Homo sapiens: one gene and its partners. The protein of the gene in region 2 purifies or fractionates together with the protein of the main gene of each other region. This does not show direct contact. Each region holds a gene or a part of one and is shown on either strand. Other genes may lie near its edges.

Region 1 (7,293 bases), on a different chromosome or scaffold from region 2:
GAGTCTAAGGCAGCAGTGACCTATGACTGGCACCACTGCACTCCAGCCTAGGTGACACAGCGAGACCCTGTCTCAAAAAACAAAAAACAAGAAGGAAGTGCAAGATGACCAGGTGCAGGCTGTGGGTGGGACCTGGCGGCCTATGCACACAAAAGTCTCATGCGGGCGGAGGGCCGCCAACCTGTCTTCATTTGTCCAGGATCTTCCCAGTTTGGAAACCCCTCAGTCCCAGGCACACTGGCATGTGATCAGTCACTCTACACGTGGGAAAACTCACAGTCAAAGAGGCTGGTCCCACGGCTGCCCTGCTGTGATGTCAGCCAAGTGGAGTTCGGGAGGGAGTGCCAGGAGCCAGGAAGGGACCGGGCCCCTGAGGACACCGGCGTACTCTCTGCCAAGGCTGGGCAGCACCGTGTTCAGGTTCAATCCCTGCTCTGCTCCTTCCTACCCGAGTGGCCCTGGGCTAGCATATAACTTGAGTCCGTTTCCTCGGCTGTAAAATGAGGACAGTAACCATTCCTATTTTGTACAGATTTTGTGAGGCATTAAATTCAATACTGCATGAAGGGTATTTTGAGCTTAGTAAATGCTCAAAACATGTTAGCTGCTATTTCTGGCTCTTCTTGTAACATCAGCAACCCTTCCTCATTGCACGGATGAGCAAACAGAGGCTGGGAGGACTGAAGCCACCTGTCCGAGCTCTCACCATGGGGAAGGGCGATATGGGTGATGTGGACTCAGAGTCTGAAGCTGGGGTCGTTGAGCCCCTCCCCTGACCTCCTCAGGCTCTCCCTTCATAAAGGGGCCACAGCCTCCCTGCAGGGCCCTGCTCACCGGAGCTGGCCGCCATGGGTGCCTGGGGCTGGAGCTCATCTAGGACGATGGAGGCCATCAGCTTGCGCATGCCCAGCATCCCCGAGGCCAGGTGCGTTGCGTACATGTCTCTCACCTTGGGGGACTCAGTCCCAGTGATGGCATCATGGTGCTGGACCTGCAGCAACCCCCAGAGGGGAGGAAGAACAGGATCAGGACCTGACTCTGCAAAGCACCTACAAGGCACCTACTAGGCGCTGGCTCTCATTCTGGCTTGCCAGGTGCCAGTGGAGAAGGGGGCAGTCCCCGCCATTTTACAGAAGGAGGAACTGAGGCCAAGAGAAGCTGAGGAGCTCGCCCAACTTTTCCTGCCCTTGTGGGAACTCATTGTCCCCCATCTCTGGACCCCCTGCTCTGAAGGACCCTGAAGTCACCTCATTTCTCCCACAACATAATGACATGTTCTGCCAGCAGCTCCTTTTGGGGAACTGTTACAGTGTCATGGCTGGTGTGACCCTTTTTTGGATAGGTGACTGAGGACAAGTTACAGGCTGTCTTGGGTCTGTTTTCCCATCAGTACAGTAGGGGATGGGTGGAGACGGAAACTCATGAACTGGCTATTCAGCAGCCACTGCACCAAGCAGGCTGTGCACACCAGCACATCCAATTGCCCCACCGTCCTCCTGGGCAAGCTCGTTGTTCTCATTGTACAGGAGGGAATTAGGTCTTGGGTGGGTGTGGGAATCATGTGCCTGACATCACACAGCTGAGCCGAGATATGGATGCAGGCAGGGCTGTCGGACACAAATGCCACTCCACCTTGTCCTTTATCCCTTTTGCTAAACTGCTACAAAGCTTAATGAGGCCACCAGCTGGATGGATCAGGCTGTGGTCTCAGCCTTGGCCTGGGTTCACCATGCACTGGCCTTGTAACCAAAGGGAACCTCAGTTTCCCCTCTGTAAAGTGGGGCCTCTAGTGCCCCAGGGCTGGAAGGATTGGCTAGGACAAGGGAGGGGAGGTGCGCAGCATGGGAGGTTCCAATCCTGCCACTGTGGCTAAATGTGGTGTTACCTCGGAGACGGCCCAGCGAAGCTGCTGGAGCTGCTGCAGGGCCCAGGTGGGGTCCAGATGCCCACGGGGGGCCGGCCACAGGTAGCGTGTGAACATGGACTCCCCGGCATACAACAAGGCGCTGGCTCGCCGGGCCAGCCCCTTCAGTGAGCTGCGGGACGTGTAGAAGCCCGTCCAGGCCTGGAATGGTTCTGGGAGACAAGGGAAGATGGTGAGCTTGAGACGGCATGACCCAGAAGTCTGCTAAGCTCCAGCCCTGGAAGAGCTGAGAAGCTGGGGCTGCAGAGGCAGCCTCTGCCAGGGTCACCCAAGGAGGCAGGCCGGGCAGGCAGCGAGCCCAGGGCTTACGGCTCCCAACTCAGGCCTCCTCCCATAGCCAGACTAGGAACTGCCCAGAAAACCCTGGATGGGCCTTGGGCAGGGTGGGAGAGACAGGCTGCACTGGGGCAGGTGGGGTGGGGTGCTGAAGGATCCTGATCGGAGGCAAGCCCAGGGTGCCTAGGAAACACAGAACAGCTGTGTGAGCAAAGGGCCTGGGAGACCCAGAGGGGAAGAGGAGGAGCCAGGTGGGCAGGACCCCACTGAGAAGGGCCTAGACTGCACAGAGGCCTTCATGTGTGACGTGGGCATGGGGAGGCCAGGACAGGCATGCGTTTCAGCAGGGATTCTCTGGGCGTCCAGGGAGGATGGATGGTAGGAGGCAGCAAGGGCTCAGAGACCCCAGGGAGCCAGTGTCCTGATGCAAGACAGAGAGGATGAGGATGCCCAGGGCCCATGCAGGAGGCAGGAGGGCTGAACCCTCCCAGGGAGTGGCTGTCTGTCTCAGAAGGGAGCTTCCTATTGCTTTTGCTTTCCTGCTCCTCGGCGTCTGGGATGTGCCCAGATTTGCCTTGATTCCCTGTTCTTCCCCCACTGGTCCTGAACCAGACTGGGAGGGGTGGTCACATGGCCCAGGGGACAGGCCACACCCTGTGGGTCAGATGGGGTCCTCCACAGCTTTGCAGCCATGTTGAGAGTGGGTGGTGAGGCCCGATTCCATTCAGTCTGGCAGGGGCTCCACATCCTCAGTGGTCATCACGATACCATGCCCGCCTGGATACCACGCCCACCTGGACGCCACGCCCACCCACACCCGCCTGGATACCACGCCCACCTGGATACCACGCCCACCTGGACACCACGCCCACCTGGACAGAGCCACACCCAACTTGACTCGGGTATATCCCTACCTGCTAGATGTGGCCACACCCACAGTCACTACCCCACCCACCTCACCATTAGCCATGCCCACATTAACATATCTCCTCCTGCCTTGACTATAACCACACCCACATCCACGGACATCCCCCAACCCGTGTGTGCAGCCCCACCTGCCTCCAATGTGGTGTCAACAGCAGGAGCCGGGGACTATGCAGCCCCACTGGTCACCATGCAGACCCAGAGGCTGGGGCCCAGAGAGGCAGGACTAAGCCAGGTCATGGGTGAGTCAAGGCAGTGCCCAGGCCAGAATGAGCCCTGCAGCTGGAGTTCATCTGTGGCATCTCTTTGGAAGGGAAATGTTATGGTTTGAATGCCCCTCCAAAACCCATGTTAAAATTTAATTGCCATTGTGACTGTATTAAGAGGTGGGATGCTTAAGAGGAGATTAGGCCATGAAGGCTCTGCCCTCGTGAACAGATTAATGTCATTGTCATGGGACTGGGATTGTTAGAAAAGCAAGTTCAACCCCCTTGTCCGGCTGTTCTTTTGCACTCAGCCTTCAGCCATGGGTGATGCAGAAAGAAGGCCCTCTCTAGACACCAGCCCTCCACCTTGGACTTCCCGGCCTCTACATCTGTGAGCCAAAGAAACTTCGTTTCCTAATCAATGACCCATTCTGTGGTATACTGTTACAGCAGCACCCAGAGGTCTAGGACATCTGCTGAGCCCTGCCTCTGTGCTGGGCAGGAGGCTGAGAGCACTTCTTCTCATTGAATTTTCACAGCAACCCTATCTATGCACGAGGCACCACAAATGTCCCCCTTTGGAGACAGGGTGGTTTCATGACTTGCACACAGGCAGCGAGTAGAGGCTTACTCACAGCCAGCCCTCTTAGCTCTCAGGCTGTGCTGCTGGTGGCCAACCCAGTTCTGGCCTGAGGACACAGGCATGATGCACAGGAGGTGCCCAGTAATGACTGTGCAGTGAAAGGAAGCCCGAGTCAGCCTCAGCATCAGGAAAGGGCTCGTAGAAGAGGTTTATGTGGAACTCATGCAGGAAGAGAAGGTGATGGAGGCCGCTCCCAGCAGGAGGCACCACCTGTGCAAAGGCCAGAGGCAGGAAACTGCATGTGGTGGGCAATGGTGAGAGGCTGAACCCTGTGGGAATCAGGTGGTGCATGTGGTGGCCAGGACGTCCAGGTGGAGTGAGCAGAGAGGGTCAGTCTCTGCCCCTGCGCCCCACACAGAACCTGCCTGGAACCCCTCCAGGGCTTGGAGAGCAGTGCCGAGCAGCCACTGAAGTGGGCAGAGGGTACGTGGACTATACCCTCCCTGCCACCAAACTACCACCCCAGCCCCTGGAAGCCTGTACCTGTGGAATAGGGCAGGAAGTCGTGGTGGTCGCGGACACGCCAGGTGACATTGAGAGCGTGCAGGGCACGGAAGTAGTCGCCCAGCGTGGCATACTGCACCGAGACACCGAGCTCGGCAGCATGGCTGTTGATGTGGTCCAGCAGCGGGTCCATGTTGGCAAACTGCACCGAGGCATTGAAGAACTGCTTGTCACATCCCTGCAGGGACATGGGAGCAACATCCTGTGCCGTGGGAGCAGGGCGCTCGCCCAGTGGGGGTGGGCCGATCGCTGCCCTCCACCAGCTGCCCTCCCAGTCTCCAAGGCGGCCAACAGGGGCCCCAAACCAGCTCCCATAGCAGTGGCTTGATCTCGGCTCATGCAACCTCCGCCTCCCGGGTTCAAGTGATTCTTCTGCCTCAGCCTCCCTGAGGCTGCAGGCGCCACCACACCTGGCTAATTTTTATATTTTTAGTAGAGACAGGGTTTTACCATGTTGGCCAGGCTGGTCCCGAACTCCTGACCTCAGGTGATCTGCCTGCCTTGGCCTCCCAAAGTGCTGGGATTATAGGTGTGAGCCACAGCGCCCGGCCCTGGGCATCTCTTAAGGCCCATCAGTGTTACTACTTATCCAAATCATTATAATTAATGATTATTAATTATTATAATTAATATAATGATTAATAACAGCAATAATAACCATGACTGAGTTACTGATCTTAAGCTTGCCTTCACAAGGGCAGTCACGGATGAAGAAGGCAGGCTCTGGGGCCCGCCTGACTGGGTCTGAACACAAATTCCACCCCTTCCTAGCCACCCTAAGGAACTCTGTGGCCTCAGGAAAATTCCTTAACCTCTCTGGGCCTTGGTTTCCTCAACTGTGAAATGGATACCAGCCTGCTTCCTAGGCCCAGTGGTGCAAATTAGATGGCTGAGACAAATATATCCCACGGGGCAGTGCCCAGCACACAGCAGGTGCTCACTAAAGGTTAGCTGTGACGATGGCCACGACGTGCCGGGCACTGGCTTCCCGGGAACGCTTCACCTCTCACCAAGCCTATGAAGCCTGCTGCCACCATCCCCATTTTACAGCGGAGGCAACTGAAGCTCAATGGACTCTAAGGCACGCAGTGCCCGAGCCGGGAGCCAGCCCGGCCCAGGCAGGGAAGAGAGCTGAGTGGGAGCTGGAGAGGCCAGCGTGGGTGAGGGTGCTTTTCCAGGTGGGGGAGGGGCTGGTAGAGTGGGAGAGGCCCAGGGGTCTGCAGGGAAGGAGGATGGAGCCACTGGGCTGAGCATGGCTGCCTAGCTGGGTCTGGATAGGGTGGCCCTGGGTGCAGGGACCAGGGCTTGCATAGTGCTCCTTGGGCTGTGTTGAGGGCACAGCACCTGGGACTCTGCCTTACCCAGGGCCAGAGGACGTGCGGTGTCCGGAACCAGGCGGCCCTCTGCTTCACGTTGGCCACCAGGGCCTCGGCATAGAGGTTGATGTTGGCTGGGGTGACAGGCTCACTCATGTTGGGGTACACCCCATCTTGGGGAGGCTTGGGGAAGACAGCCACGCCATTCCAGTAAAATCCTGACCTGTGCGAGGGCAGAAGGTTAGGGCAGAAGACACGAACTCTGTGGACAGCCAGGGCTCACACCCAAGTGCCATGTTCTCCCAGCCTTGGGACCTTGGCACATCATTTCACCCTGAGACTGAATTCTCCCACTCCATGACCGACGGTGGGTCACAGATTTGTTTGCTCATTCACGCAGGCCAACTTCTCGCCCATCAGACCCCGGGTCTCAGGACCCCAAAGAGGCCGGGGGCTTGGTGAGGCAAGTGAGGCCCTGGCCTAGGGCACAAAATTTATGGGGGTGCCTCAATTCTTAGTAGTTGAGATAAATGATATTTTAATGCAGTACTTTAAAAAATGAAAATTAATGCAAAAAACCCATGAGGAACAAAATGTCAGAGTTTTAAATAAAGACAGGCTCAGTATTTAACATCTTTCTCTGTTTGCCTTAGGCTGGGGGTGTGGAGAACCCCCAGTTAAGTGCCTTCCTTGCTCACACTGTGCAGCCTCGGGGTAGCAGCCATGGAACCCTTGTCTGGAGCTCTCCAACCTGGGCAGCCCCTTCCAGCATTCCCACCTCTGTTTCTTTTACAGACAGGGTCTTGCTCTGTTGATCAGGCTGGAGTGCAGTGATATGATCACGGCTCACTGCAGCCTCGAACTCCCGGGCTCAAGCCATCGCCTCAGCCTCCCCAGGAGCTGGGACTACCACCATGCTCGACTTGTTTTTGAATTTTATGTAGAGACGAGGTCTTGCTCTGTGGCCCAGGCTGGTCTCGAATTCCTGGGCTCAAGCAATCCTCCCACCTCAGCCTCCCAAAGCATTGGGATCACAGTCATCAGCCACCAGCACTGCCACCTCTAGCCTCACCAAGCTCCCTGGTAGAATGTGGAGCAGGTTGTTGTGAGGATTAAATGAAAGTCATTTATGGAAAGGAGCTAGAAACAGTGCTGGGCACAAAGGAGGGCTGACAAATGGCAGTGACCGCTAATTAATCCCGGCCAGTGTTCTTCACCCCCTCTGCCTTGCCTGTTGTCTTTCCTCTTCCAAGAGAGGCTAAGCACCTGGCCAGGGCAGAGTGCGGATTTGAACCCAGGGCCGTCTGACTGCACAGAGACCAAGGCTGACTGCTGCCACCACGTGGAGGCTGCAGAGCTGGTGGCCTGAATCCAACGCTGGCTCCACCACGTCTGCCAGCTGTGGGACCTGGGGCGGGCTGCTGTGCCTCAGTTTTTCCTTCTGTAAGATGGGGCACTCACAGCATCTCCGTCAGTGGGCTGCTGCGAGGGTCTGTGAGG
Region 2 (7,748 bases):
TTTTTTTTTTTGAGACAGAGCCTTGCTCTGTGGCCCAGGCTGGAGTGCAGGGGCACAATCTCAGCTCACTGCAGCCTTGAACTCCCAGGCTCAGGCAGTCCTCCCACCTCAGCCTCCCAAGTGGCTAGAACTACATGCATGGACCACCACATCCAACTAATTTAAAACAATATCTTGTCTGAGCATGGTGGCTCTCGCCTGTAATCCCAGCACTTTGGGAGGCCGAGGTGGGTGGATCACCTGAGGTCAGGAGTTCAAGAGCCTGGCCAACGTGGTGAAACCTCGTCTCTACTAAACATACAAAAACTAGCCGGGCATTGTGGCGGATGCCTGTAATCCCAGCTACTCGGGAGGCTGAGGCAGGAGAATCACTTGAACCCAGGAGGCAGAGGTTGCAGTGAGCTGAGATCGCACCATTGCACTCCAGCCTGGGCAACAGAGCAAAAACTCCATCTCAAAAACAAACAAATAAATAAACAAAACGTTTTGTAGAGATATGGTCACAGTGATGTGGTTGCCCAGGCTGGCCTCAAACTCCTGGGCTCAAGCGATTCTCCTGCCTTGGCCTCCTAAAGTGCTGGCATTAGGCATGGGCGTGCCCGGCCCCTTAAGGCTTTTTAAGATGCCACAAGGAAGGATTGGATCAGTCAGTCCCGATGCCCCTAGCTCTGGCTACCTGGATGATGGCTGTTGCCTGGATCCTTTGATAATCCCTACTCCAGCCCTCTCACCTTTGTGCTGGGATGATGAAGTTGGGGGTCTCATCAATGAAGCCCTGGATAAAAATAGGGGATGTTTGTGGGGAGGCAGGAAAGCCCCCTTAGTGCCCCACATCCTGACTCTTTCAGTTCCCGGATAGCTGCTTGGGTTCACGCCAAAGACGTTTTTATATAGTCTTTGCTCAGGCAGTGTCTGCCGCCTAAAATGCCATCCTCCTCACCCCAAGAAAAACCCACCTAAGACTCAGGCCTCCTACCCTTCTATCCCTGCTGGAACCCAGCAGAACCCTTGACATCCGTACCCTCAGTTCCCATACCTCAGCGGGGGGTCTAGGACTGGCGATGTCTTCCAGCATCACCACCAGGGTGGGCTGGGGGGCCCGGTCCACCTTTTGTGAAGGGCCCTCCTCTGGGCCAGGGGTTGTCCTTGATCGCCGCCTCAGGGTGGAAGAGGTCCGGTGGATGCGGCTCAAGGGCTCGCGACACAAACACAGAGGGTCGGGAGGCCTAGCGAGGGAACAGGAAGATTAAAATGGCTCAGCTGGGCCCTCGGCTTACCCCCATCCTGCCATGCTCACCTGGCCTGCGAGGACCACCCGGCCTGCCGGGGTGGCGAGGCAGGCGGCTGCCTGTGGACAGGATCCTGATGGTAGCTGTGGTGCTGTGGTATGGAGGTCTGCTTTGAGGGCACCACGGGGACCTGGAAGAGAAAGAGGTGTCAAGAGCAAGGTGATAGAATGAGGCTGGACGGGACAAGGTTTCCCTGTGCCTCACAGTGCCCTGAGCCACAAACATAACAGAGATTGGGGCTAGAATTCACTCGGATCCCAAGAGAAGAGATGAATTGGACTGAATTAGGGGCCAGATATTAAGAGTCCTAAACTGCAGGTGTAGGACCTGGGTAATCTCATCCACGCTGTTTAGAGAAATGAAAAAGACAGGGTGAGCTAGGGTGGGTCACTGCCTTTTTTGGGCCAGTTTTTCTTATCTGTGCAGTGGAGTCAAAGACCTCAGCCTGCTTCCTAAGGAGGCTGGGCTGGGAAGAAAGCAGAAGAGTTTCGGCCCAGCGCCGTGGCTCACGCCTGTAATCCCAATACTTTGGGAGGCAGAGATGGGAAGATCGCTTGATGCCAGTTTGAGACCAGCTTGTGCAACATAGCAAGACCCTGTCTCTAAAAAAAAAAAAAAGATAGAAAAAAAGAAGCAGAAGAGTTTCTCAGAGTTACAGGGATGTGGTTCCAGCCCAAAATCGTTGGTGGGTGGAATGGGCACTGCCCAATTCTAGGTTGGAGTAAGTGGGAGCCAAGCAGGACTCTACCATGAGGGAGGCTGCCTGAGGGCTGAGTACAACAATGATGGATTTGGACTTCAGTTATCCTCAGTAGGGATCTGGCCCGAGTTTGGTAGTGAGGAAAGTCATGGGGGAATAGAGAGTCTCTTGGTTCAGGGGGCTCACCATGTGAACAGCCATGACATCTTCTAGCACCACGGCCAGGACCCGCCGAGAGGCCTTTTCCAGGGGAGAAGGGGCCCCCGGGAGCTGCAGCCTCGGCCGTTTCGGGCTCCTGGCTCCCCATAATGCTCGAGTCAGAGGCTGGCGGCACAGACGCGGCTGGCCAGGCGGGCTGGAGGGTGAAAGAAGCAGAGGACGGTCGCCCGAACCTGTCGCTGGCTCTGTAGTTTCCCGGCACGGTCGCCAGGATCCCCATCTCCCGGGGTCAAGACAGGCGGGCCGCCCGGGTACGCTCTCACCTGGAGTCCCCGGGCAAGTCCATGGGAGACGCGGCGGCTCCGGGGGGGTCCCTGGGGAATCCCAGGCTGCGGCCTGGGGTAAGGGGGGAGCGGGGGAGCGGGGGGTGAGGGCCGGCCCCTTCCCTGGGGCTCCGCCCTTCATGGTCCGCCCGCGGCTCCCCGTAGCCCAGCGGCCGCAGCCCTGGGGCGCGAAAGGGCGCCCCCGGCCGGTCGCCCGGAGCGGGTGTCCTCCCGCTGCCACCGCCTCGATCAGCGGATCACTCGCGCCCTGCCTGGCACCTGCCGCCAGAACCCAGAATGCAGCGGCCCCAGTTCTCCCGCGGCCCGAGCCTCCCGAGGCCTTTGTCCCTGCAGATTATGCCCCGAGATCCCCCGGGATCCACGGGGATCCCGGTCCTGGGAGGCTATTTCCGCTGGATCCCTCTGCGATCCTCCTCCTCTCCCAGCGAGTGGCCGAGGACTCCAAAGCAATACTCCATACATCGACGACCCTCCATCCCACCAGATCCCCTAGACTGGATCCCTGAGGAAAGAATCCTACAGCGCGGTTCCGCCAATCAGACGCCGGGCGAGGCTTTTCCTTCCCCTGTAAGCTTCAGCGCCGCAAAGCTCCGCTCAGACAGGGGCGGCCCGAGCTGGAGCATCTCCGAACTCAGCGTAGATCCCCAGGGATCCACTGTCAAGCAGATACCCTCTTCACTCCAATCCCGGGAGGTCCCGCCCACAGACGCCCCTTCCCTCCTCGCGTCCCCGCCCAGCGGTCTCCCCCGGCCCGGGACCAGATGGTTCAGAAGTTTCCTTCCCCGCCCCCACTCCCGCCCTCTCTCCAGCCACTCCTTGCCCTCCCCCAAGGGCTGCTCACCGCCGCCTCCCGTGGATCCCGGGTCTTCCGCAGCTCCCACCTCCGGCTCCTTTAAAAACCAAGCTTACCCAACGCTGCCCAACCGCCGATGGCCTTCTTCTCGGAGCCTCTGGACACCGCCCAATCGCCGGTCCCCGTCTTCCGGGGTGGTGAGAAACTAAGTGAAGCCACCTGGCGGCCATCATCCCTAGGGGCAGGAAGCCAAACTGAGTGGCGCCGCCATGATGGTTGAGGGCAGATGTCTTAGTCCTCGTTGAACCGTGGTGGACCGGGTGGCGTCATCTTTTGAGGGCCATATACAATGCCAGGTTTCTTGATATGTTGAGGCAACCGATTGAAGCTAGAGTGCCGCCACGCTTTTTAAGGGCATCTTCCGGTTCTTTCGTTCTTAGGCCAATAAACGTCGACTGAGTGCTAACGATATGTGAAATTCCCAATTTCCTAGAGTGGCCTCGTTTGAGGAAGGTTCCGGCATCTTCCTGGGTTCCTAAACTGGGTTCCCACGGCCCAGGGTCCGAGTTTAGGAGGGGGTGGTGGAGGCCCTGAGTCCGAACACCCGGGATCAAAGACGGGCTGGTGCGGCCTGTGGCTCCGTTGCTGGCGCCTTGTCCTGGAGAGATGGGACCGAGCCGAAGTGGGGAGGAGACTGGGGGCGCTAAGCTTGACTTCCCCTGAGTGTTGCCCACCTACTTCTTCCTGGAGAAGTGGGGGTGCCCACGGTCCGCGCAGAGGTCTATAGGACAGGGGCATCTTTGCAGGAGGCCAAGAATATACCTTGGCTTGCTAGTGGGGCCCGGCTCTCAGGAACCACTGTCTCAAGTGGGGCCCGCAGGATGGGGGAGGTGTAAATAGTCCTGAGGAGTAAGGGATCAGGGTGGGACGCTGCTGCTTGGAGGAGCTGCGTCATGGACCCTTTACTGGAAGCTGGGCTGTTGGTGGGGAGGAAGTGGGCATGTAGTGGCTTCTTGCAGCGCTATGAAGGTGCCCTGACCGCTTAACCAAAGCCCATGTCTGCACTAGTTCTCCTTCCCCAGATTCCCTGGTCCAAACCAGTACTTCTTTTCTTTTTTAATTTTTTTTTTTTAATTTGAGGCAGGATCTCGCTATGTTGCCCAGGCTGATCTTGAACACCTGGGCTCAAGTAGTCCTCCCGCCTCAGCGTCCCAAAGTGCTGGGATTACAGGCGTGAGCGCCCAGCACGAGTCCTTATTTTGTTTTCTTAACAGAACGAGAGACCCTGAAGCCTAGAATCCTGGGTCCGAGATAAGGTGCAGAGGTGCTTCCTGGTTTAGGTGTCATAATTCTCAGGGGATTGAGTGATGAAAGTGATAAAACAGGGCCGGGTGTGGTGGCTCACACCTGTTATCCCAGCACTTTGGGAGGCAGAAGATAGCGGATCACTTGAGGCCAGGAGTTCAAGACCAGCCCGGCCAACATGGCAAGACCCCATCTCTAAAAAAAAAAATACAAAAAAATGAGCCGAGCATGGTGGCGCACGCCTGTAGTCCCAGCTACTCAGGAGGCTGAGGTGGGAGGCTCTCTTGAGCCTGGGAGGTCGCAGCTGCAGTGGGCTATGATCGCGCCACTGCACTCTAGCCTGGGCGACAGAGACCCTGTCTCAAAACAGACAAACAAACAAGGGATGATATGGAAAGCATAATCGAGAAGGGCTTATGTGGGAAATGGAGGCTCCCCAGCTCCGTCCCTAAGGACTCATGCAGGGAGACGTTCTTGCAGGACTACAGCATCTCTGTAACAGGAGGTCCGCTGGGTCCTCTGGAAACCCATTCAGACTTCTGGTGGGAGCAGGCCGCCGTGGTTCTTCCACGTAGAGGTGTTTCTCTCCCTCTGGATCAGGGCTGGCAGTATGGGTGCCTGAGGAGGTACAGTGATGTTTCATCCAGCTGTGAGTGCTTGGAGATTCTTTCAACCTTGCCAAATTAAGACCTAAACCCCACAGGTGCTTTTCAGGCCCCAGGGCAGGAAAAACTTTCAAAAGCAGAGCAGGCCTAACCTGAGTTTTTAGGTATTTTTTGTTTGTTTGTTTTTTGTTTTTGAGACGCTCTGTCGCCCAGGCTGGAGTGCAGTGGCGCCATCTCAGCTCACTACAACCTCCGCCTCCTGGGTTCAAGCGATTCTCGTGCCTCAGCCTCCCAAGTATCTGGGACGACAGGTGCTCACCACCACGGCCGGCTAGTTTTTTGTATTTTTAGTAGAGACGGGGTTTCGCCATGTTGGCCAAGCTGGTCTCGAACTCCTGGCCTCAAGTGATCTGCCCGCCTCGGCCTCCCAAATTGCTGGGATTATAGGCATGAGCCACCACACCTGGCCCTAATCTGAGTTTTGATTCTCTAGGTCTCTTGAAGTCAATGACACCAAGGGTAAAAGATGTAGTCCAAAGAAAAGTCCTGGACCTGAGTATTTGGTAGGAAGAGCCCACCAGTGTGACCCTAACTTGGGGTGCTAGAGTTCATCAAATGGAAGTCTAAGGTAGACTGTGGCAGTCTTGGCCCTTAGCCCAGGCCAGCAAATGTGAGCCCTCATGATCTTGCGGTCTCACCTCTGCTCTTTTTGTGACTTCCCATTTCAACAACTTTACTTTGCCCACTGCCTACACAGGTGGTGGACACACTGTGGGGTGTACCACAGTGTATGCTGATGCATTAGCAAGAGGGCCCCACACAGCCTCCAGTGGGGCTGCTGGTGTGGCCGTGGGTGCACTTCAGTGTGTCATTATTCAGAAACTCAGGGTCCGTTTAGACTCTGGGCGGCCCATCTTTCTTTTTTCTTTTCTTAGACAAGGTCTTGGTCTGTCACCCAGGCTGGAGTGCAGTGGTGTGATCATGGCTCACTGTAGCCTTGACCTCCTGGGCTCAAGTGATCCTCCCACCTCAGCCTCCCAAGTAGCTGGGACTATAGGTGTCCGCCACCACGCCCGGCTAATTTTTTGTATTTTTAGTAGAGATGGGGTTTCACTGTGTTAGCCAGGATGGTCTCGATCTCCTGACCTCGTGATCCGCCCACCTCGGCCTCCCCAAGTGTTGGGATTACAGGCGTGAGCCACCGCGCCTGGCCTGGACCCTTTAAATATATATATATATTTAAATTTTTTTTACCAGCCAGCATCATGCTAAGTTTTGTCAATAGATGGCTGGAGAGACATTGCAGGAAGAAAGAGTTTTGCTTCCCAGTTCAGCAAACCCTCCTGGGAGGCTCCTGCAGCACAAGTGGGTTCCCAGCTCCCTGCTTCTGCAGGGCAGGGTGGCCAGCAGAACCCCAGGGTCAGCAGCTCCCCCAGGTGCCCTCTGGATGGTTTTGCAGTGGAGTTCCTCTGTGGAGACACCTGCCCATGAACAGCTTTCCCTGGCACCCAAGAGGGTGGATTTCCAGCAAGTTCCACCAGACTGACACTCCAGCAACTACTGTACTTCAGCGACTTCTGTACTTCTGTGCCCTCTCCAAAAACTTGTGGATCTCAGGAAGGAAGGAGGTCTGTCTTTCTTTCTTTCTTTCTTTTCTTTCTTTCTTTCTTTCTTTCTTTCTTTCTTTCTTTCTTTCTTTCTTTCTTTCTTTCTTTCTTTCTTTCTCTTTCTTTCTTTCCTTCCTTCCTTCCTTCCTTTCCTTCCTTCCTTCCTTCTTTCTTTTTCCTTCCTTCCTTCCTTCCTTCCTTCCTTCCTTCCTTCCTTCCTTCCTTCCTTCTCTCTCTCTCTCTTTCTTTCTTTCGACAGGGTCTCACTCTGTCACCCAGACTGGAGTGTGGTGGCTCACCACAACCTCCGCCTCCCAGGCTCAAGCGATTCTGCCTTAGCCTCCCAAGTAGCTGGGATTACGGGCACATGCCACCATGCCTGTCTAATTTTTGTATTTTTAGTAGAGATGGGGTTTCACCATGTTGACCAGGCTGGTCTCAAACTCCTGACCTCAAATGATCCACCCGCTATGGCCTCCCAAAGTGCTGGGGTTACAGGCATGAGCCACCGCGCCTGGCCAGAAGGAGCCTTTTTCTTGTATGCTCTGTCTCCGCCTGAGAGGAGCTGTGGCTGCTCCTTGTATTAGGTTGGTGCAAAAATAACTGTGGTTTTTGTCATTAAAAGTAATGGCAAAACCGCAATTACTTTTGCACCAACCTAATATCTGCTCTTCTTGCATTTTTTTTTTTAGAATTCTGTTTACTTCTTATTATCTGTAGTGGGCAGAATTTTGTCTCCCCACCTCCCCCCCACCCCACCAAAGATATTTTCAAATCTTGAACCTTTCACTTCCTCTGAATCTGACCTTATTTTGTTGTTGTTGTTGTTGTTGTTGTTGTTGCTGTTGTTGTTTGACACAGGATCTTGCTCTGTTACCCAGGCTGCAGTGCAGTGGCTGGATCTTGGCTCACTGCAGCCCTGACCCCCTGGGTTCAAGCAGTCCTC
Region 3 (7,293 bases), on a different chromosome or scaffold from region 2:
AACAAGGGTTCCTCCCACTTTAAAAATATTTCCATGATTCTACTGTGCATAGAAAAAAAATGCATACATTTTTATTTCCCTCGGGGAGTATTTTAAACTTAAGTAAGTCTCTTTCCTTTGGGAATGAAGGCGATAGGCCCGGCGCCGTGGCTCACACCTCTGTAATCCCAGCACTTTGGGAGGCCAAGGTGGGCGGATCATGAGGTCAGAAGACCCAGACCATCTTGGCCAACATGGTAAAACCCCGTCTCTACTAAAAATACAAAAATTAGCTGGGCATGGTGGCGTGCGCTTGTAGTCACAGCTACTCGGGAGGCTGAGGCAGAAGAATTGCTTGAACCCGGGAGGTGGAGGCTGCAGTGAGCCAAGACTGTCCCACTGCACTCCAGCCTGGGCGGCAGAGCAAGACTCCGTCTCAAAAAACAAAAACCAAAAAAACAAAATGAAGGTTATATCAATATCAAAAAAACGAGTTTGCAAACTTTTTATTTTGCTTCTAAAAGTAGTTGTACAAAATCCTCCTACCTGTGCATGGAAGAGTGATAAGCTCCTGACAGTGTGTAAAGGGATCAATACTTTCACCAGAAACTGTTTGTGTTCTGCCTTAAGAGGTAAAGCAAAGCCATTGATAATACTAGGGAGAAAAAAGAGACACAAATTAGCAATGTTACCACAAGTTGAACTGAGACAAACTGTTCTTGTGATATTAATTAAACTTAATCAGTTTGTTTGTACAAAACAACATAATACCCACCCCAGTGGCATTCAGAATTTCCTTTTTTTTTTTTTTTTTTTTTTTTTTGAGACAGAGTCATCTTGCTCTATTGCCCAGGCTGGAGTGCAGTGGCCCAATCTCAGCTCACTGCAACCTTCGCCTCCGGGATTCAAGCTATTCCTATGCCTCAGGCCTCCCAAGTAGCTGGGATTACAGGCACCCACCACCATGCCTGGCTAATTTTTTTGTATTTTTAGTAGAGAAGGAGTTTCACCATATTGTCCAGACTGGTCTAGAACTCTTAACTGCAAATGATCTGCCCACCTTGGCCTCCCAAAGTGCTGGGATAATAGGCGTGAGCCACCACACCCAGCCAGGATTTCTTAATGACTTCAAGGAATACAAAAAGTTGGAAGGAAATTTAAGAGAAGAAAATTTGCTTCTGGTCACCCAACAAAGGCTCCTGTGCTCCTAAAATTAGTCAGATGGTTTCCAAAAGCTCTTTATCAAAACCCTTTATTTTCCCTCCCTTTTCCTTCTCCAAATAATGGCCCGCCTTGCTTGCTTCCGCCTTAAATATGACCTTTTCCATTTCCAGACATCATTCCTTCTCATTCCTGAAACCTCTGCCCAGCCTAGGGAAATCACTGAGAGAAAGCCATGTGACTCCACCTTCTTTTTCTCTTCATATTAGGAGAAAAGATTAAGTAATCATATTGTCCAGCTACATTATCCTCCCTTGTGTGTAGAAACTTACACCACAGCTCTTTCCAATTCATTCCACTACTCCAGGCTGCAGCTGTTCAAGGACTATACCTGGATACACAACTCCTTTGAAAATGGCAATCTTTCCAATTTATTATAAACTTGCTTTCAACAGATAAGGCAAAGGACCAGATAGCCTAAAAACTAATGAGAATAAGATGTTTTGGAGTAACTAGCCTGACCACAATTAGATGTACCATCTTTCTAGTAATGAATGAACTGTCAGCTCTTTCAGTCATTCCAGTGGAAATGGCAATGCATACTTGTGGAACAAGGGGAACAGGAAATTGTGTCTTGTAGAGTCAGCTGGAAAATATGCTAATAGGCACAAATGAGAGAGACCCAATGTACATACAGCAAGAGAACTAGGTGAGCATCTCTTGGTGCCACCTGAACCTAATTTTTAAAATAATATTCATCTGAGATTAGCAATTAGAAAAACCGTGCTCACCTTCCTAATATTTCCAGCAGTTCAGCTACACCATTGAAGTGTTCTGTTTCATAAACAAACCTGAGAGAAGAGGAGAAAAGGGAGGAGAAAGGAGGAGAGGAGGAGGAGAAGGAAGGGATAAAAAGAGGAGGAGGAGGAGGAGAAGGGGGAGGAGGAGGAGAAGAGGAGGAGGAGGAGGAGAGCGGGGAAGAGAGGAGGAGAGGGAGGACAAGGGGGAAGAGAGAAGGAGGAGGAGGAGGGGGGAAGAGAGGAGGAGGAGAGGAGGGGGGAAGAGAGGAGGAGGAGAGGAGGGAAGAGAGGAGGAGGAGAGGAGGGAAGAGAGGAGGAGAGGAGGGAAGAGAGGAGGAGAGGAGGGAAGAGAGGAGGAGAGAGGGGAAGAGAGGAGATGGGGGAGAGATGGGGGAAGAGAGGAGAGGGAGGAGAAGATGGGGAGAGAGGGGGAGGAGAGGAGGGAAGAGCGGAGGAGAGAGGGGAGAAGAGGGGGGAGGAGAGGGTGGAAGGGAGGAGGAGCAGAGGGAAAAGGGAGGAGGAGGGGGGAAGAGAGGAGGAGACGGGGGAGAGATGGGGGGAAGAGAGGAGGAGAGGGAGGAGGAGAGGAGGAGGAGGGGGAGGGGGAGAAAAGGAGGGAAGAGAGGAGTCGGGGAGGAGAGGAGAAGGGGGGAAGAGAGGAGGGGAGCGGGAAGATGGGGGAGGGAGAGGTGGGGGAAGAGAGGAGGACAGGGAGGAGAAGAGGAGGAGAAGGGGGAGGGGGAGAAAAGGAGGGAAGAGACGGGGGAGGAGAGGAGAAGGGGGGAAGAGAGGGGAGGGGGAAGATGGGGGAGGGAGAGGTGGGGGAAGAGAGGAGGAGAGGGAGGAAAAGAGGAGAAGGGGGAGGGGGCAGGAGAGGAGGAGAGCGGGGAGGAGAGGAGGAGAGGGAGGGAGAAAGGAGGAGGACAGGGGATAGAGGAGGAGGAGGAGAGAGGAGAGGAAAAGAGGAGAGGAGGAGGAGATGGGGGAGGAGGAGAAGGGGGAGGAGAAAAGCAGGGGAGAGGGAAGAGGAGGGGGAAAGTAGGGGGAGAGGAGGGATAGAGAAGAAGCAGTGGGGGGAGGAGGGAGAGGAAGAGGAAAAGAGGAGGAAGAGGAGGGTGGGAGGAGAAGATGGGGGAGGAGAGGAGAAGATGGGGGAGGAGAGGAGAAGATGGGGGAGGAGAGGAGGGGGAGGGGGTAGAGGAAGAGGCAGGAGAGTCAGTAGAATGAAGGAAGGCAGGCAGAAAGGGAGAAAGAGAAGTCAGTACACCGTTTTCAGATATTTGAGATTTACTTAATACTCATAAAAACACCAACTTTGCTTCTCCTTCTTCCCCCATCACACTCCACTTACCTTAGAAAAATATTGTTAATCTGTTTTCGGATAAATGCTCTAAGACCAAGAAACTTGCCATAAATTCTGTGTAAGACTGTTTTTAAGTAGTCCCGTTCCCGAGGGTCTTCGCTGTCAAATAGCTCCAGAAGCTGTTGTAAATGAAAGACATTATAGCTGTCAAAGGCGGTTTCAGAAAAGGATTTAGGAATTCTATTATTTAAAATCCCCTTCTTCCTTCCTCAAAAAATGTGTTGAATATCTATTATGTGCCAAGCACAGTGCTAGTCTTTGGGCATATCATGATAAACAAGTCAGACAAGGAGCTTATATTCCACTAAAGAAATACAAATACAAAATAACAACAATAAAAGTAATAATATGAATAATAGCTAATACACATATGGCACTTACTGTGATCATCAGGCAATTTTCCAAGCAATCTACATATTAATCCTCCCAATGAGATAGTTTTGTCCCCCTTTTACAGAAGAGGAAACTGGGGCACATAGGGTTAAGTAACGTGCCCACGGTCTCACAGCTAATAGGTGGTAAAGCTAGAATTTGAACCCCAGCAGTTGAGGCCAAAAGTCCGTAGCTCAACCACTGCACTATGCTACCTACTGATATTCCAAATATGCAGTTAAAATAAGCTGACTGCCTGTGGTGACTCATGCCTGTAATCCCAGCACCTGGGGAGGCCAAGGCAGGCGCATCACCTGAGGTCAGGAGTTTAAGACCAGCCTGGCCAACATGGTGAAACCCCGTCTCTAGTAAAAATACAAAAATTAGCCAGGTGTGGTGGCGGGCACCTGTAATCCCAGCTACTCAGAAGGCTGAGGCAGGAGAATCACCTGAACCCAGGAGGCAGAGGTTACAGTGAGCTGCGATCGCGCCATTGCACTCCAGCCTGGGCCATAGAGCAAGATTCGGTCTTTAAAAAAAAAAAAAAAAAAAAAAAAAAAAGGATAAGCCTTCAGCTCTACTAGAACATCTAGGAAAATGAAAAAACCTGAATCAAAACAAACATCAAAATGTCTCAATGATACTGGCAATGGTCCTTTTTAGATCCAGACTCTTGTTATGTAGGTGTGCTCACTCTGTAAATAGTCAACGAAGTGAACATTGATTATTTCTGTTGTATGTTATATGTGAATAACTTTTTTTTTTTTTTTTTGAGATGGAGTATTGCTCTGTTGCCCAGGCTGGAGTGCAGTGGCACGATCTCAGCTCACTGCAACCTCCGCCTCCTGTGTTCAAGCAAGCAATTCTCCTGTCTCAGCCTCCTGAGTAGCTGGGACTAAAGGCACCTACCACCGTGCCCAGCTAATTTTTTGTATTTTTAGCAGAGACAGGGTTTCACCATATTGGTCAGGCTAGTCTCAAACTCCAGAACTCAGGTGATCCACCCACCTCAGCCTCCCAAAGTGCTGGGATTAGAGGTGTGAGCCACCATGCCTGGCTGTGAATAACATGTTTAAGTTCCCAAACATTTGTAATCTAAAGTTAATAACCAAATCCTGATAACATCACATCTACATGCTCAAAATGAGGTCCACGCAACTAGTCCAAAAGAGGTAACAAGCTAAAGTTTCAGCCAAATGCCAGTGAGCACAACAGATTCAACTCAATCTCTATCAAAAGTTCTAGCTGCTTTGTTTTTGTATCATTGACAAGTTGATCCTAAAATTCATATGGAAATGCAAGAGAACCAGAAGAGCCAAAATACTCTTGAGGGAAACAAAACTTGAAAGATTCACACTTCTCTATTTCAAAACTTAGTCCAAAATACCAAGACAGTGTGGTACTGGCATAAAGACAGACATACAGATTAATGGAATAGAATTAAGAGCCCAAAAGTAAGCCCTCACATTTATGGTCAACTGATTTTCAACAAGAATGGTCAATAAACCATGAAAAGTGCTCTATTTTATTGATCATTACAGAAAAGCAAACCCTGGCTCACGCCTGTAATCCTAGCACTTTTGGAGGCCGAGGGGGTAGATCACGAGGTCAGGGGTTTGAGATCAGCCTGGCCAACATGGTGAAATCCTGTCTCCACTAAAAATACAAAAATTAGCCAGGCGTGCTGGCACATGCCTGTAATCCCAGGTATTCGGGAGGCTGAGGCAGAAGAATTGCTTGAACCTGGGAGGTGGAGTTTGCAGTGAGCCGAGATCGCGCTGCTGCACTACAGCCTAGGCAACAGAGGAAGACTCCATCTCAGAAAAAAAGAAAAGAAAAGAAAACCCAACCAACAAAGAGATACTCATTGGATGGCTATAATGAAAAAGAGGGATAATAAAAAGTGTTGGCGAGGATATGGAGAAACTGGAACCCTCATACATTGTTGGTAAGAATGTAAAATGGTGCAGCTATTTCAGAAAACAGTTTGGCAGTTCCTTAAATCTCCCACAGAGTTACTATATGACTAAGCGATTCCACTTTCATGTATATATCCAGCAGAACCGAAAACACATGTCCACACAAAAACTTGTACACAGATGTTCATGGGAGCAATATTCATAATAGCTAAAAACTGAAACAACCCAAATATCCGTCAACTGATAAACAAAATGGGATGCCATGGAATATTATTCAGCCATAAAAAGGAACAAAGTAACTGATACATGTTACAACATCAATGAATCTTTCAAACATCATGCTAAGTAAGTAAAAGAAACCAGACACAGAAGGCCATACAATGTATGACTCCATTTATGTGAAATAAGCAGAATAGGCAAATCCATAGTGACAGAAAGTAGAATGGGGAGTGGCTACTAATAGGTCTGGATTTCTTTCTTTTTTTTTTTTTTTTTTTTTTTTTTTTTTTTGAGACAGAGTCTTGCTCTGTCACTAGGCTGGAGTGCAGTGGCGCTATCTCGGCTTACTGAAACCTCCGCCTTCCGGGTTCAAGCGATTCTCCTGCTTCAGCCTCCTGTGGGTCTGGATTTCTTTGAGGGATGATAAAAACATCCTGCAATGATACTGTGGTGATGGTTGCATGACTCTGTAAACATACTAAAAACCACTAAATTGGAAACTTTAAAATGGTGAATTTTATGGTGTATGAATTACAACACAATAAATCTGCTACCTTTACAAAAAGTCAGTGTGCAAGTTCCTCTGGCTGAAGAACAAACTTGGAAATTGGTTTGAATGTTACTGAGTTGTTTTTTTTAACATTCATCATCATTGCAATAAAGCAAAATTCAGTTCTAGTGTCTTTACAGCAAAACATTTCAAGAGCACATAACACACAAATTAGACTACCATCGTCATCAAAAAGGCTATCCAGATATATGTAAGTTTGACCTCAGGTGATTTAGACATGAGGTTGACACTGACAGCAGAATAAAAACCTCATGGTCAATAATCGAATGTGCTTTTGTTCGGTGTTTTAATTTGAATAAAAGACAAGAGTTATGGACCAAAAAAAGGCCCCTCAAACATGGCAGGAAACGCAAACTAAAGGATGGTCTTCAAAAATAGGTAGAGACAGGACACAATTTTTAGCTACATAATGCCATCCACCATCCATCTATCATTCATTCATCTGTTCATTTTAAAAATGAGTATTTCAAGTAAATATTTATGGTGTGCTTATTAAAAGCCAGCCAGTGGGCGAGCTGTCAGGGATACAATGATAAGCAAGACAGATACAGTCTTTGCTTTCTCAGAGCCTATTCTAATGGGGAATACAAACAAGTAAATAAACAGCATGTTAAGTAGTTCAGGATGTTGTATAAATACACAGCAGACACATCTACTGTATTTGGAAGAAGTGGAGTGATCAGCAAAGGCTTCTAAAGGAAGAGACATCCAGGCTGACCGATGAAGAAATGAGGAGTTAGAAGTGGGATATGAGTGCTCCTCACAGGTTCAATAGTACATGCTTTTCCTAGCAGCCTATCCAAACAGAAGATGTTGTTAACTACAGCTCTCTGCCCATTCAGCAATACAATAAATACATACGTACTGAGTTCTTTCTATGTGCCAGCGATGGTCCTCATTGCTGGACAT

Evidence for each region.
Region 1: the proteins of PRR14 (region 2) and MAN2B2 purify together in Homo sapiens (affinity purification with mass spectrometry; 2 studies listed by BioGRID and IntAct, with this or other methods). This does not show direct contact.
Region 3: the proteins of PRR14 (region 2) and PPP2R5E purify together in Homo sapiens (affinity purification with mass spectrometry; 2 studies listed by BioGRID and IntAct, with this or other methods). This does not show direct contact.

The regions. Positions count from the first base shown.
Region 1 is NC_000004.12:6,591,896-6,599,188, reverse strand, and holds part of MAN2B2 (epididymis-specific alpha-mannosidase isoform 1 precursor), read right to left. Parts: intron 6,017-7,293; coding exon 5,839-6,016; intron 4,656-5,838; coding exon 4,457-4,655; intron 2,077-4,456; coding exon 1,886-2,076; intron 992-1,885; coding exon 835-991; intron 1-834.
Region 2 is NC_000016.10:30,646,392-30,654,139, reverse strand, and holds the start of PRR14 (proline-rich protein 14), read right to left. Parts: upstream 3,181-7,748; 5' UTR 3,013-3,180; intron 2,545-3,012; 5' UTR 2,495-2,544; coding exon 2,472-2,494; intron 2,345-2,471; coding exon 2,176-2,344; intron 1,420-2,175; coding exon 1,298-1,419; intron 1,227-1,297; coding exon 1,037-1,226; intron 776-1,036; coding exon 732-775; intron 1-731. UniProt on the Homo sapiens protein: Functions in tethering peripheral heterochromatin to the nuclear lamina during interphase, possibly through the interaction with heterochromatin protein CBX5/HP1 alpha. Might play a role in reattaching heterochromatin to the nuclear lamina at mitotic exit.
Region 3 is NC_000014.9:63,393,295-63,400,587, forward strand, and holds part of PPP2R5E (serine/threonine-protein phosphatase 2A 56 kDa regulatory subunit epsilon isoform), read right to left. Parts: intron 3,423-7,293; coding exon 3,292-3,422; intron 1,992-3,291; coding exon 1,932-1,991; intron 635-1,931; coding exon 526-634; intron 1-525. UniProt on the Homo sapiens protein: The B regulatory subunit might modulate substrate selectivity and catalytic activity, and might also direct the localization of the catalytic enzyme to a particular subcellular compartment.